Regions from separate parts of the Homo sapiens genome. Here all the other regions are linked to region 3. The links come from fine-mapping of genetic effects on gene expression. A gene starts in region 3. Each other region holds a variant in brackets. All regions are shown on one strand. Distances are from middle to middle. Region 1 overlaps ABCA3 (ATP binding cassette subfamily A member 3). Region 2 overlaps ABCA3 (ATP binding cassette subfamily A member 3). Region 3 holds the start of ABCA3 (ATP binding cassette subfamily A member 3).

Evidence for each region. PIP is the estimated chance that this variant, and not a neighbour inherited with it, causes the effect. A credible set is the group of variants that fine-mapping cannot tell apart.
Region 1: its variant is the best candidate, but not a certain one, in a credible set for the expression of ABCA3 in thyroid (GTEx, PIP 0.61).
Region 2: its variant is the best candidate, but not a certain one, in a credible set for the expression of ABCA3 in cerebellum (GTEx, PIP 0.74).

The regions. Positions count from the first base shown.
Region 1 is chr16:2,298,346-2,303,535 of GRCh38, reverse strand. It overlaps ABCA3 (ATP binding cassette subfamily A member 3), which reads left to right. Exons shown (of 33, transcript NM_001089.3): 13 at 3,388-3,531; 14 at 4,004-4,133; 15 at 4,996-5,150. Among named protein-coding and RNA genes, the nearest start is that of MIR4717, 26 kb to the right of the region's middle. The variant G/A (reference allele first, on the strand shown) is at 3,011.
Region 2 is chr16:2,305,082-2,310,300 of GRCh38, reverse strand. ABCA3 (ATP binding cassette subfamily A member 3) reads left to right here. Exons shown (of 33, transcript NM_001089.3): 11 at 1,678-1,851. Among named protein-coding and RNA genes, the nearest start is that of ABCA3, 33 kb to the left of the region's middle. The variant CA/A (reference allele first, on the strand shown) is at 2,104.
Region 3 is chr16:2,337,659-2,342,877 of GRCh38, reverse strand. ABCA3 (ATP binding cassette subfamily A member 3) reads left to right here and starts at 2,150. Exons shown (of 33, transcript NM_001089.3): 1 at 2,150-2,305. It also overlaps the pseudogene ABCA17P. RefSeq lists silencers at 1,840-2,299, 2,470-2,529.

The DNA of each region.
Region 1 (5,190 bases), 39 kb after region 3:
CTCTTTGGGAGGCCAAGGTGGGTGGATCACGAGGTCAGGAGATCAAGACCATCCTGGCTAACAAGGTGAAATCCCATCTCCACTAAAAATAAAAAATAAAAAAAAAACTAGCCGGGTGTGATGGCGGGTGCCTGTAGTCCCAGCTACTCGGGAGGCTGAGGCAGGAGAATGGCATGAACCTGGGAGGCGGAGCTTGCAGTGAGCCAAGATCGCGCCATTGCACTCCAGCCTGGCAACACAGCGAGAGTCTGTCTCAAAAAAAAAAAAAAAAGAGAGAAAAAAAGTTCGGATTCCTGAAATCTATAGCTCATTCCCACTGGTGAGATGAACACTGTTGACATTTGGTATGTACTTTGCTGGGTTTCCCTCTCTACACTTACTGTCATAGAGCACAGATGGATGGACATATAGCATAGTTTCATAAAAATGTGATTGGAGGCCGGGTGTGGTGGCTCACCCCTGTAATCCCAGCACTTTGGGAGGCCAAGATGGGTGGATCACCTGAGGTCAGAAGTTTGAGACCAGCCTGGCCAGCATGGTGAAACCCTGTTTCTACTAAAGAAATACAAAAAAAAAAAATTAGCTGGGTGTGGTGGCAGGCGCCTCTAATCCCAGCTACTTGGGAGGCTGAGGCAGGGAGAACTGCTTGAACCCGGAAGGCGGAGGTTGCAGTGAGCTGAGACTGTGCCATTGCACTCCAACCTGGGCGACAGAGCGAGACTCCATCTCAAAAAAAAAAAAAATGGGATCGGGGTGGACATAGTCGCTCATCCCTGTAATCCCAGCACTTTGGGAGGCTGAGGTGGAAGGATGACTTGAGGCCAGGAGTTAGAGACCAGCCTGGGCAACATAGTGCAACCCCATCTCTACAAAATAAATAAAAAATTTAAAAAATTAGCCAGGCGGCACATGCCTGTGGTCCCAGCTACTTGAGAGGCTGAGGCAGAAGAATCACTTGAGCCCAGGAGGCTGCAGTGAGCCATGTTCACACCACCACACTCCAACTTTGGTGAAAAAATGAGACCCTGTCTCAAAAAAAAAAAAAAGAATCATATTGTAAAAAATGCTTACAAGTTGCTTTTCTTAACCTAACAGTACAACTCAGATATCTTAAATACATATATATGTTTGTCTATTTATAAATATAGTTTTAAACTATTATCTAAACATATTGATGAATGTTGTTATATTTATAAATATATTTCTACCTAAGTATTACCTTTTTAAGAATCACTGCCGAGACCAGCTCGGTCGGGGAGACCTTAACCCAGCGGCACTAGAGGAATTAAAGACACACACGCAGAAATATAGAGGTGCGAAGTGGGAAATCAGGGGTCTCACAGCCTTCAGAGCTGAGAGCCCCGAACAGAGATTTACCCACATATTTATTAACAGCAAACCAGTCATTAGCATTGTTTCTATAGATATTCCATTAACTAAAAGTATCCCTTAAGGGAAATGGATGGATGGGCCGAATTACTTGCAGCAGGAACACGCCCTTAAGACACAGATCTCTCAGGCTTTTGTTTGCGGCTTAAGAATGCCTTTAAGCGGTTTTCCGCCCTGGGCGGGCCAGGTGTTCCTTGCCCACAACCTTCCAGCTTGGGTGTTATGGCCATTATGGACGTGTTACATTGCTGCAGAGATTTTATTTATGGCCAGTTTTGGGGCCAGTTTATGGCCAGACTTTGGGGGGCTTGCTCCCAACAAACCACCTTCATTTATAGTGACACACAGTGTTCCATTCTGTGGGCCCATCAACATATACTTAACTGATTCCCTACCGATGGCTAGTTAAGGTCATTTCTTTTTTTTTTTTTTTCTTTGATTCGGAGTCTAGCTCTGTTGCCCAGGCTGGAGTCCAGTGGCGCGATCTCAGCTCACTGCACCCTTCACCTCCCAGGTTCAAGTGATTCTCCTGCCTCAGCCTCCTGAGTAGCTGGGATTACAGGCACCCACCACTACACGCACCTAATTTTTTTTGTATTTTTATTAGAGACGGGGTTTCGCCATGTTGGCCAGGCTGGTCTTGAACTCCTGACCTCAGGTGATCCACCCGCCTCGGCCTCCCAAAGTGCTGGGATGACAGGCGTGAGCCACCACCTCCAGCCGAGGCCATTTCTGTTTTCATTCTTTGCTTCCACAAGTAGTTATCAAGTGTTCACTACTGTAATCCATCAACTGTAAGATGACACTGACCGTTAGAGGTAATGGTTACTTTGTCTATCACTAAGAAAGAAAAATGCCACACTTACACTATGGCATTTTATAGTTTAAGATGCATTCTGATTTTTTTTTTTTTTTTGAGACGGAGTCTCGCTCTGTCGCCCAGGCTGGAGTACAGTGGTGCCATCTCGGCTCACTGCAAGCTCCGCCTCCCGGGTTCACGCCATTCTCCTGCCTCAGCCTCCCGAGTAGCTGGGACTATAGGCGCCCACCACCACGCCCGGCTAATTTTTTTGTATTTTTAGTAGAGACGGGGTTTCACCGTGTTAGCCAGGATGGTCTCGATCTCCTGACCTCATGATCCGCCCGCCTCGGCCTCCCAAAGTGCTGGGATTACAGGCTCGAGCCACCGTGCCCAGCCAAGATGCATTCTGATTTTAAAATCACTTTACATATGAGAGCTGTGTCCCTGAGAACCAGTGGAGTGCAGTGTGTGCCAGATGCCGTTCCAGGTGCTGGAAGTGCACTGGGCGTGGAGCTGCGGGTAAACGAGTCCCCGCCCCGCAGCTGCCCTGGCACTGATCCTGCCAAGGCACTGCTTCCACCTTCCCTGCTGCTCTGCCCGCACCACTGTGTCGACTGCCTCCATGTAGGCACCAGGCTGTCCTCGAGGGCACTGTGTGAGGTGTGTGCCTGTGTTCTTACCCCATGCACTGAGTTATTTCTGTGATGGCCACAGAGAAGATGGGAAGAGGCTTCCTCATAGTAGAGGGAGGCGTGGCGCCTTCGGCTTCTCTTGCTTACAGTCATGAACTCATGTGGGGCTTGAGCAAAGAAACAGCCG[G/A]GTGGCATGGGGACACAGCTTTCTTTCCATTTTGGCTCCAACATCCCTCTGGACTGGAGCGTTAGATAACTTCTGTCTATGAAATTTCATAGCTGACAAACTCCCTTTGCCCTGTATCGGATCTGAGTTCATCTTCACAAGCCTGTATGTAACCATTACACCCACTTACCAGGTTAGGAAACTGAGGCTTAGAGCCTTCACAGGGATGAAACAAGTTGGGACTCTCTGGGGCTCTCCCTGAGTAGCGCCTTCTCCACAGCAGTGCCTCGAAGTCCTGGGACAGAGGCTGCATGGCTGTGTGCATCTAGTGTGTCTGCTGGTTGTTGCTTTGCTCGTCACAAACAAAACAAACTGACAGCTGTCTGCTTCCCTCCCAGCCCTCCTATTGGTGTGGGAAGCCAAGGGCGGTTGCAGGGAAGGAGGAAGAAGACAGTGACCCCGAGAAAGCACTCAGAAACGAGTACTTTGAAGCCGAGCCAGAGGACCTGGTGGCGGGGATCAAGATCAAGCACCTGTCCAAGGTGCCGCCTCCTGTGGGGACAGGGAGGGCCGGGGCTGCCAGGACCATGGGAAGACTTACCAGCACGGCAGTGAGACCTCATAGCCCGTCAGGCGCTCCCTCTGAGCCTTGCTCCCTCCTGCCCTGAAGGAGGGCAGGAACCCTCCGCTGCCCTCTAACCGGTTCCCCAGGGCACAGACCACATCTCCAGCTTCTCAGGAAATGCCAGACTCAGCCGTCCAGCAGTGCCTCGGCCTCATGGGCCTCCCAGGGTTGCAGAGACACTGAGGGTGTCTGGGACGTGTTGGGGCTGGGGGAGACCGGAGGGGAGCAGCCAGGAGCAGCATCTGCCCGAAACGTCCCTCCCCTCTGCACACTGATGGTGACGCTAGGCTTGGTTCCTTCTGAGACGGTCGGGCAGGGGAGCAGGAGAGGCCTTGGCCGTGGGCCTCGGGGCTGTGGGTAGCCCAGGGCAGCCTCTGCCTTTCCTGCAGGTGTTCAGGGTGGGAAATAAGGACAGGGCGGCCGTCAGAGACCTGAACCTCAACCTGTACGAGGGACAGATCACCGTCCTGCTGGGCCACAACGGTGCCGGGAAGACCACCACCCTCTCCATGCTCACAGGTGAGGGCCAGGCGCCTCACGCCCCTGCCACCAGCAGGCCCCCCTTTAACACCATCTCAGCGCCAGCCCCGCCTCACTCCCTCAATGGGGCTTTCGGGCCTTCCCCAACCACAGCGGCAGGAGATGCACCTCAGCCCTGCAGGCCCAGGGGCACAAGCAGGGACTGCCCTCCTCACCGCCTCTGTCCGGGACATGCCGGGGGACCCCCAGGGACCCCTGCCCTCCTCACCGCCTCTGTCCGTGAATGCAGGGGGACCCCCAGGGACCCCTGCCCTCCTCACCGCCTCTGTCCGTGAATGCAGGGGGACCCCCAGGGACCCCTGCCCTCCTCACCGCCTCTGTCCATGAATGCAGGGGGACCCCCAGGGACCCCTGCCCTCCTCACCGCCTCTGTCTGTGAATACCCAAGCTTGACAGGGTCAGTGAAAACAGAGGCCACCACGCAGGAGCAGCTCAACCCCATGCTAATTCTGTCACCAAACCCCTCTCTGAGAGCTCTCCCCTGTGCACCACACCGGCCACTGGCATTTCACTCTGTCTTCCCCAAGCACCAAAGTGTCTGGCAGTGGCACAGGCTGGGACCCGGGGCGGGGGCTGATTGTGGTGACTCTGTGTGTGTGTGTCGTGGGTTTCTCCTCCCTGACCAGCTGTGCGTCCCAGTGGCAGGGCTGTTTCCATGCCGCTTCTTTTTCCCACTGGCCCAGCCAAAGCCCACCCCAGTGGGAGTGGGGTTCCGTGCCCTCTCATGGGCAGGGTCCTCAGAGGAAATTAGGGGAGACAGAGAGGGGGTGGGGGGTCATTACCGCGGGTGCTGACGAGCAGGATCTTCATGCTGAATGTGGGGTCTCCTGCTGGGCCCCAGGTCTCTTTCCCCCCACCAGTGGACGGGCATACATCAGCGGGTATGAAATTTCCCAGGACATGGTTCAGATCCGGAAGAGCCTGGGCCTGTGCCCGCAGCACGACATCCTGTTTGACAACTTGACAGTCGCAGAGCACCTTTATTTCTACGCCCAGGTGAGTTGGGGGCCAGGGGTGTGCAGGGGTGTTTCCACTG
Region 2 (5,219 bases), 33 kb after region 3:
GAGTAGCTGCGACTACAGGCGCACACCACCACCCATGCCCAGCTAATTTTTGTATTTTTAGTAGAGACGGGGTTTCACCATGTTGGCCATGATGGTCTTGATCTCTTGACCTTGTGATCTGCCCACCTCAGCCTCCCAAAGTGCTGGGATTACAGGCATGAGCCACCACACCCAGCCGGGGTTTTTTTCATAAATGTATGTTGACTTGTAGTGGATTTGTTACTGTTATTCTTAAATTTAACAGAATTTTTAAATGTTCTTAGTATTAATTTCTCACAGAATAAATATGGATATATATATATAACCCACATTTAAAAAGCCCTTTGGTGTCGTTAATAATTTTTAAGGATAGAAAAGGGTCTTAAGACCAAAGATTTTGATGGCTGGGCACGGTGGCTCAGACCTGTAATCCCAACACTTTGGGAGGCCAGGGCGGGAGGATCCCTTGAGCCTAGGAGCTTTAGACTAGCCCTGACAAAATAGGGAAACCCATCTCTACAAAAACATTTAAAAATTAGCTAGGCATGGTACTGCGTGCCTGTGGTCCTAGCTGCTCTCCCTAGCCGGAGGTGGGAGGACTTCTTGGGCCCGGGAGGTGGAGGCTGCAGTGAGCCATGATGGCACCACTGTACTCCAGCCTAGGTGACAGAGGGGGACTCGATCTCAAAAGGAAACAAAGAAAAGAAAACCAAACAGTTTGAGCACTGCTGGCATGGACAGAAAACATGCCCATCTCTCCACTCTCCGTAATCCACTCTCTCACCTCTTCCGGCTCCTTCTCACATGTCACCTCCTCGAAGCCTTCCCGGCCGTCGGGAGCCTCTTCTCCCATCCTGCGCCTCCTTGCTGCATCCAGCATGTGTCTCCATCCAGCACACCTTGCTCTCTGTCTCCCCGCTATATTCCAGGCGTGGGAGGGGAGGGATTTTCTCTGTTTTGTGTGGGGCTGCCTCCCGGTGCTTAGAACAGAGTAGGTGCTCAGTGCGTATCTGACGAATGCATGAATGAACAAATGAGAGAGATCAGGCAACCCAGGCAGAAGTGGGGCTTAGGCAGGCTGGGCACGGTGGCTCACGCCTGTAATCCCAGCACTTTGGAAGGCCAAGGCCGGTGGATCACGAGGTCAGGAGATCGAGACCATCCTGGCTAACACGGTGAAACCCTATCTCTACTAAAAAATACAAAAAATTAGCCGGGCGTGGTGGCGGGCACCTGTAGTCCCAGCTACTCAGGAGGCTGAGGTAGGAGAATGGCGTGAACCCAGGAGGCGGAGCTTGCAGTGAGCCGAGATCGTGCCACTGCACTCCAGCCTGGGCGACAGAGCAAGACTCCTTCTCAAAAAAAAAAGAAGTGGGGCTTAGGCGGGAATCAGGGGTTTGGGATCAGCCACGTGAGGTGTGCAGTGTCAGGGAGGCAGCTGGATGGGAGGTGGAGGAGGGGCTGGAGGTGTTGGTGTGGGGGTCCCTGGGATGGGGGCACTACTCACTTGGAGAAGGGGCTGCCGGCCACACCTGGTGTCCCCCCGTGCTGGAGCTTGTGTCCCGTGTAGATGGCAAGTGCCAGGAGCAGGTTGGGTGGCTCGGCCCCAGGAGTAGGGGGTTGCCTGTACCTCGGGGAGCCCAAGCCCCTTTTGAGGGCACTGACGCTCACGCCCCCCGGGTCTTCCAACACCTGCAGCCAACATGGCAGCAGCCTTCGGAGGCTTCCTCTACTTCTTCACCTACATCCCCTACTTCTTCGTGGCCCCTCGGTACAACTGGATGACTCTGAGCCAGAAGCTCTGCTCCTGCCTCCTGTCTAATGTCGCCATGGCAATGGGAGCCCAGCTCATTGGGAAATTTGAGGCGAAAGGTGAGTGTTTGCCTTGTCCAGCCTGTTCTTTCCGAATCAGTAACCTTCGAGAGCACCCAACCACAAGAGCCGCCAGCAGCAAGGCTCCACCTGGGACGGTTGGCAGGCAGTTGGGACCACTGAAGGCAGCAGCATCCGCATACAGCGCTGAGTGTGGGCTGGATAGCTGGACACGGCCCCGGGCGAGGGAAGCCCAGCTCCACGGCACAGCAGGAGGTGATGGGAGCCACAGGGCAGTGGGCCGAAGAAGCC[CA/A]AAGCTCGGAGGACAAGAGGGTTGGAGCATCCAGCAGCGTTGGCACCACATACGCATCTGACTGATGGTGGGATCTAAGTCGGTGACCTGAGCCTCTTTCAGTTTTCATTTTTTTTTATTTTAAATATTTTATAGAGATGGGGTCTCACTGTGTTGCCCAGCCTGGTCTCAAACTTTCGACCTCAAGCAATCCTCCTGCCTCAGCCTCCTGAATAGCCAGGATTACAGGCGTGAGCCACCACATCTGGCCTCTTCCAGCTTCCTGAGACATTCAAAATTATTACATCAGAAAGGCTGGGCGTGGTGGCTCACGCCTATAATCCCAGCACTTTGGGAGGCTGAGGCCGGTGGATCACGAGGTCAGGAGATCGAGACCATCCTGGCTAACAAGGTGAAACCCTGTCTCTACTAAAAACACAAAAAATTAGCCGGGCGTGGTGGCAGGCGCCTGTAGTCCCAGCTACTCGAGAGGCTGAGGCAGGAGAATGGCGTGAACCCAGGAGGCGGAGCTTGCAGTGAGCTGAGATCGCACCACTGCACTCCAGCCTGGGTGACAAGACTCCGTCTCAAAAAAATAAAATAAAATTATTACATCAGAGATCTCAAAGTCTAGGGTTTTGAGGACTTTTTTTCTTTTTTTTTGAGACAAGAGTCTCGTTCTGTTTCCCAGGTTTGAGTGCAGTGGTGCGATCTTGGCTCATCTCAACCTCTGCCTCTGGGTTCAAGTGATCCTCCCACCTCAGCCTCCCGAGTACCTGGGATCACAGGCATGCACCACCATGCCCATCTAATTTTTTTGTATTTTTAGTAGAGAGGGGGTTTTGCCATGTTGGCCAGGCTGGTCTTGAACTCCTGACCTAAAGTGATCTGCCCTCGGCCTCCGAAAGTGCTAGGATTACAGGAGTGAGCCACTGAGGCTGGCTGGGTTTCGAGGACTTTTCATCAACCACTGCTCTTGGTAAAGGGTAGAATTAGCATCTTCCCAGTGCCTCCTGTATTGATTGGTGATGGCAGCAGAGACGCCTAAGAGAGAAACAAGTGATAAACGACAGCATTTTTTTTCTTTTCTTTTTTGTTTTTTGAGACAGGGTCTCGCTGTGTCACCCAGCCTGGAGTGCAATGGCATCATCACGACTCACTTTTTTTCTTTTCTTTTCTTTTTTTTTTTTTTTTTTTTTTTGAGACGGAGTCTCTCACTCTTTCACCCAGGCTGGAGGGCAGTGGCGCAATCTCGGCTCACTGCAAGCTCCGCCTCCCGGGTTCATGCCATTTTCCTGCCTCAGCCTCCCAAGTAGCTGGGACTACAGGCGCCCGCCACCGTGCCCAGCTAATTTTTTGTATTTTTAGTAGAGACGGGGTTTCACTGTGTTAGCCAGGATGGTCTCGATCTTCTGACCTTGTGATCCGCCCGCCTCGGCCTCCCAAAGTGCTGGGATTACAGGCGTGAGCCGCCCACTTTTTTTCTTAATTTTTATGAAATTAAATTGAGTAAAACACTTCCTTGGTCGGCCTTTGGCCTGTGGGCTCTCATTCTGCAAAGCCTGCTGTGGGCACCAAACCTGGTCTGAGCCCCTCCAGTTAGGCCTCCTCCCAACATTGCTGCATTGGGGGTCAAGTCTCCAACACATGAATTTGGGGGGCCCAGTCAAGCCATGGCACCATGCAGTTCCTAGCTGCAGCTTGCCAAGGTCTGGGTCTGTGGAAGGAGGTGGGAGTGTCCAGCGTTGCTTTGTCTTTCATTAGAACGGTTCTCTACAGTCGGCAGTGTCTTCTGACACTTTAGCTTTTACATATCTGTGTTTCCATGTTTACTCGTGTGTTGATAAAATGTAAACTTTGTTCTTTTGCTTTCTTTTTAACAATTTTTTTTTGGAGATAGGGTCTTACTCCATTGCCCAGGCTGGAGTGCAGTAGCATGATAATAGCTCACTGTAGCCTCGACCTCCCAGGCTCAAGTGATCCTCCCACCTCAGCCTCCTGAGTAGCTGGACTACAGGCACGTGCCACCACACCTGGCTAATTTGTCTGTGTTGCCTAGGCTGGTCTCAAACTCCTGGCCTCAAGCAATCCTCCTGTGTCAGCCTCCCAAAGTGCTGGGATTACAGATGTGAGCCACCACGCCCAGCTAGAGTGAATGTTATTAAAACAGACAAATCTCTGGTTGTTTGAAAGTGCAAATTCACCAAGGCTGGAGAGCATTATTTCCATCAGGGTCCTCGGCCAAACAGAGGGTGTTTGGACACACAGATCCCCAGCACTGTCAGGACTGCAATGTTGGCAAACCAGAGAGATGATGAGAAACACGAGCTCCATTAAAGAGAGCTTTACACGTGTTTGAAATATTTCTGTGATTAAAAAAGACTTATGGCCGAGGCAGGAGGAAGGCTTGAGGCTGGAGTTTGAGACCAGCCTGGGCAACATAGCAAGACCCCCATCACTACAAAATTAAAATGTAAAAAAATAGTTATACTAGGCTGGATGGGGTGGCTCACACCTGTAATCCCAGCACTTTGGGAGGACGGGTGGATTACTCGAGGTCAGGAGTTCAAGACCCACCTGGCCAACATGGCGAAACCCTGTCTCTACTAAAAATACAAAAATTGGCGGGGCGCGGTGGCTCACGCCTGTAATCTCAGCACTTTGGGAGGCTGAGGTGGGCGGGTCATGGGGTCAAGAGATCGAGACCATCCTGGCCAACATGGTGAAACTCCGTCTCTACTAAAAATACAAAAATCAGCTGGGCATGGTGGCGCACACCTGTAGTCCCAGCTACTCGGGAGGCTGAGGCAGGAGAACCGCTTGAACCTGGGAGGTGGAGGCTGCAGCGAGCCAAGATTGTGCCCCTGCACTCCAGCCTGGCAACAGAGTGAGACTCTGTCTAAAAAAAATACAAAAATTAGCCAGGTGTGGTGACGTGCTCCCGTAATCCCAGCTACTCCGAAGGCTGAGGCAGAAGAATCATTCAAACCCCAGAGGCAGAGGTTGCAGTGGGCCAAGATTGCACCACTGCACTCCAGCCTGGGTGACAGAGCAAGACTCTATCTCAAAAAAATAAAAAATAATAAACAAATAAAGACTTATACTGGCCGGGTGCAGTGGCTCACACCTGTAATCC
Region 3 (5,219 bases):
TGACTGAGGATATGACCGGGTGAAGACAGGGCCAAGCAGCCAAGTTCACATCATTTTCTGGGACGAAGCAGAGAATGGGGAAGACATTTTGGATGGGGTGTTGCAGTCTGTGAAGACTGATGGGGAAAGGGGGTTTTTAGGATGTTTGCAGCGCATTAATAATCCACTCCCCCACCCATCCTGTAACTGCATTCAATTGTTTGGGGTTTTTTTTCCCCCTGTATGCTCATTACGGAGACTAGGCTATGTAAATCCCTAGCTATACTCACATTATATACTACCATTTATTTGGCATTTATGTGTCAGGTATTGTAGTAAGCACTTAAACATGCATTTTCTCATTTGACCCAAAAAAGAAAAGAATACACCAACAAAAAACCTTTGAGTTTGCTATTATTATTAATTACTATTATTATAATTTCAATTTTAGGGATAGGAAATTGAGACTCAGAAAGATAAAATGACATGTCTACATTAATTGGTGGGTCAAGATCTGAAGCCAGGTCTCTGTGATTCCACTGAACAAATTATTTAGCATGAGCCTCCTCCGCCCCAGGCACTCTAGGACCCTGGATCTAGGCATGAACCTGACGAAGTCCCTTTGCTCGCGGAATGGGCTATCCAGAACATCATCAGAGTGAAAGGTGCTATGTACACAGTAAAATGGGGAACGAGCCGCTCAAACCCTACTCCATCAGGACTCTTGGGGGTGGGCGATTTCCGCCCCCGGCCCGGGGCGTTGCATTAGGTCGGGGCCGTCGGGTCGTGGTGCCGGCGGCTGGCTGGGCGCGGGGCTGGCGGTGCGGGTCGCAGGCGGCTCCCAGCGGCAGGACCGGCAGCAGCCCTCCCTCACCCGGGGCGCCGGGACCACGGACGCACCTCACTGTGGTCCGGCCGCTGGCGGCGCTCGGGGACCCATTGGCCCCGGCCCGCGGCAACTGTCGGCCCCGCGCGGCGCCCGCCCTCATGCTGGAGCCCGGGAGTCCCTCACTCCACCTCTCCCTGCCACGCCAAGGGGGCCCGCCCCTCCCAGGCTCTCCTGCCTGGGGCGACCCAGTCCCACGACCCGGTCCGGCCCAGGGACACCCCGACCCACCTCCCCACTCCCGTCCCGTTAGACCGCGACCCGTCCCTGGGACCGCCTAATGTGACACGCCCGGGACCCTCCCTGCAGGCGACTCCCTGCAGGGCCCCCGCCCTGGACACTCCCTCCAGGTGACCCCGTTCCGCTCGCTCCGTGAGGTGACCCCGACCCTCTCCGGACCACCTCCTCAGGTGACCCCGACCCTCTCCGGACCCTCCCCGACCCTCCCCTCAGGTGAACCCGACCCTCCCCGGACCATCCCGTCGGGTGACCCCAACCATCCCCGAACCCCCCCACCCTCCCCTCAGGTGACCCCGACCCTCTCTGGACCCTCCTCACAGGCGGCCCCGCCCCACCCCGGGACCCTCCCGCCAGGTGACCCCGACAAGGCCGGGCCCTCCTGCCTGAGGTGACTCCTACCCGGCTGGGGACCCCCGAGGCCTCCCTCGCTCCTTAAGTGAGGGCGACTCCGCTCATCCCGGGACACCGCGCCTTCTCCTGTAAACTCGACGCCTGCCCCGACGGCCGAATTCCAGAAGGTTCCTCGCCGCCGCCTCGCCTTCGGTCGCGCCCCAGCGCCCGGCCAGAGGCGGGGAAGCCCTTCCCCCGGTGCCAGGAGTGACGAGGGCCCAAGGAAAGACAGTGCGTGAGGAGAAATGGAGAAACGGCCAAAGTCGAGTTTCCGGGTGTGAAGACTTCCACTGCTGCGAAACGCACGTGCGCAGAGTCATTCCTGTCAGAGGCCACCGCGCCCTCGCTCGGCTACCGCCGCTGCGCGCCCCCTGCTGGACATAGGCGCGGGCACAGAGCAGTGCGCAAGCACGGGCTGCCGCGCGGCCGGGTGCGAACCGCGTACTCGCAGGGTGGCTGACTGCGCACGCGCAAGTCAGAGCGCCCTCTGCCGGGCATGGGCGACATGCAGGGGGCACCGCGCAGGCGCGGGGTTGGGCTGGCCGGAGCGGCCGAGGCGGCCGGGGGTGGACCGGGCACCTGCAGGGGCGGCCGACTGCGCACGCGCCATCCGCGGCGCCCCCTGCAGGAGCCGGAGCGGCCGCTGCGTCCGCCAGTAGCGGGTTGCAGGCGCACCCTCCCCTCCAGGGCGGCCACGCAGCTGTCAGTGCCGCCGCCACTGCGAGGCTGGAGCGGAGCCCGGGTGGCCGAGGGAGGGGACCCCGCGAGAGGGCCGCGCGCCGGCCGCCGCCGCCCCGGCGCCCAGGCTCGGTGAGTGCCGCCGGGACCCGCCGCTCGCGCGCTCGTTCCCGGGGCTTGCGGTCCCCACCCGGGTCCGCCCTTCCCACCCTCGCCGGCCAGCTCGGGCCTCGGGCCCCCCCCAGCTCCGGCCTGGCCTGCGGGCCCCTCCCGCGACCCCGCATCCCCTCCGGCCGCGCCCGCGCCCGCCCCTCCTGCCGCGGCCTCGGCTCCGGGCGCTCCCTGCAGGTGCCGCTCCCTCAGCGTCGGCTCCCATCCGAGCCTTGGGCGTGTCCCGCACTGCGGGCAGTGCCTGAGCCCGCGCCGCGCGGGGAAGCTCGACCCTGCGGAGACTCGGCACGGCCCGGGCCCTCTGTGTGCGCCCAGAAGGTGGATATGTAGCGACCGACAGCCCCGGCCCCGAGGGATGCAGGCGTCCGCCGCGCACTTGCGGAGATGGCGCCGCTTTCCGGCCGCAGGGATGCCGGGCGCGCGGTGGCAAAGCCGCCCGGGTTGGATTCCGCCTGCTCCCACCCTCTGGTTCCGAGGAGCCTCCAAATCCGAATCCAAGGCCCACGGTCCGCGGCGGGCGTTTGCTGCGCCCTCCACTGTGTGGGAACGGGAAAGGGGAGCCGCTAGTCCAGGCGGAGGGGCTTGTGGCAGTCGCCGGAGGCCGCGTTCTCGGCGCCCTCGGTCAGGACGCCTGTGTGCATCGCGTCCGTGTGTCTTGGCTCTGTTCCAAGCCGGCTCCACGCTTCAGAAGGGCCGGGACGGCCTTATGGTCAGGGGCGTGGGGAAGGCGCTTGGTGTCTGTCGCACAGATGAAGCCATGTCCTCAGGGGGTAATTGCCGCTTGTTCTCCGGGTTACGTCCTGGACTGTGCACTCCGGGAAGGCGTCGATTGGATCTTGTTGGGGTTTGTGTTCCTGGAACTCCAGAAATGCCCGCTGAGTGAGTAGCCGAGACCCCGCGACAGCATGGAGCCCAGGCAGGGAGCACGTGGGAGAGGTTCACTCTTCTCCTGGGCATCCCGTCATTTTATTCAGATAGTCTGGGCGCTGCCTTTTGTAAACTTGAAAAGACTAAGACTGTTTTAGAAAGTTTGCCTCATGAGAAATGTAAGAGAAAGGGAAAAATAGATAAAAATGGATGTCATGGGAATCTCCCCCACACTTTCATTTTTAACTTCTTAGATAATTTTTCTTTTAAATTGAACCTTTGCTAACTCTACCTGAAAAACAGGACGACGTCTCTCCCTTCCTAAAGTGACTTACCACCATTCTGACCAGACAGGCTTTTGGAACAGGAGAGGGTAGCACGAGTTGTTTCTAAAAAGATGTTAGCCTTCCATCTGCATGAGCCAGGCAGTCTCATGGGAGCCCATTTTGACGTAGTCTCAACTGGGAAGGCCCAGGTAAGATCCCTAGTTTGCCATTTCTTCCCCAGCCCTGCTTCCGGAGACTGTGGAATCTATTGAGGGGAAGCATTCTGGAACTTTGGGGACGGCTCTGACGGGGAAGGCCTTGTGCACAATGGAAAGATGAATTGGAAGCCGGGCTAAGTGGCTCACACCTGTAATCCCAGCACTTTGGGAGGCAGAGGCGGGCGGATCACTTGAGTTCAGGAGTTCGAGACCAGCCTGGCCAACATGGCGAAACCTCATCTTTACCAAAAATATAAAAAATTAGCCGGGCATGGTGGCACGTGCCTGTAATCCCAGCTACTCAGGAGGCTGAGGCAGAAGAATCGCTTGAACATATTAGGTGGAGGTTACAGTGAGCTGAGATGGCACCACTGCCCTCCAGCCTGGGCGACAGAGCAAGACTCTGTCTCAAAAAAAAAAAAAAAAAAAAAGATGAATTGGACACAGTCCCTGCTCTTGGAGGGGTCTTAGGATAGAGCTAAAGAGATGCTTTATTCACAAGTAACTGTGACATAAGACAGAACAAGATGAGTACCACATGACACATCCAGAAAAGGTGCAACAGGTGACCAGAGGTGGAGGAGAGTTGGCTCCAAGAAGAGCAGAGGGTCTCCACCCAGGCTTCCCGTTACAATCACCTGGGAAGCCAGCCTGGGCCCAAAACAGCCCAGAATCTCCAGGGGTGGGCCTCAGATGTCAGTTTCTGTCTTAAAGTGCCCTGGAAAATTCCATTGTGCAGGCAGCCAAGACAAAGAGCCCCTGAAACAAGCTTCACAGAGGCCATGGTACTAGAAGTGGGCTGGGAAGTGATGGGTAGGTAGAGAAAGGTATCCGGGTGATATTCTAGGCAGACAAAACACTGAAGGCCCACATCTTGTGGGGAAGAGTGAGGCATGTCAGGCCCTGTCCTGGGAGAGTTTTGCAGACCCCATTCCCCTGAATGGCTCAGAGTGTTTGTGGTGTTGGAGAGGTTTGGAGTCAACAGGCAGACAGGTGCCTTTGCGGGAGCCGTGTAACGAGGTCCTTGCTAACTTGCTTGTTGGAGAACATCCATGGTTACCTCCCTCTGGGGACTTTCCATTGCCTCATTACCTCGTTTCCTGCACCTAGGGAGGCAGAACAGCTAGCTGGCTGGAGAACGGGACTGAAGCCACGGCAAGGGTTAGGGAAACAGGCAGTAGCAGAGATTTTGTGGAAGTCTGTCCCGATAGCTCCCTTTGGAACCACGTCTCTGGCTTAAAAATACACCCTATGAACCCCTGCCAGAGCTTCATTGTAAACGCAGAGCCTGTGATCCTAGGGAGGCAGCCGCCTCCAACTCCAGGCAGCGCCTGTGGTGCTGAGTATGAGCGCCAGCAAGCTAGGGCTCCATCAGGGCCTGCGATGCCAGTGCCACAGCCTCAAACCAGCCTCCCCAGCTCTCAGCCAATGGCTGTGGGTTGTGCATTTGTTCCTACCTCATCCCCACAAGGGCCACTGAGGTTATAAATTGGCCTTGGCCAGTGCAAGTGATTCACATCTGTA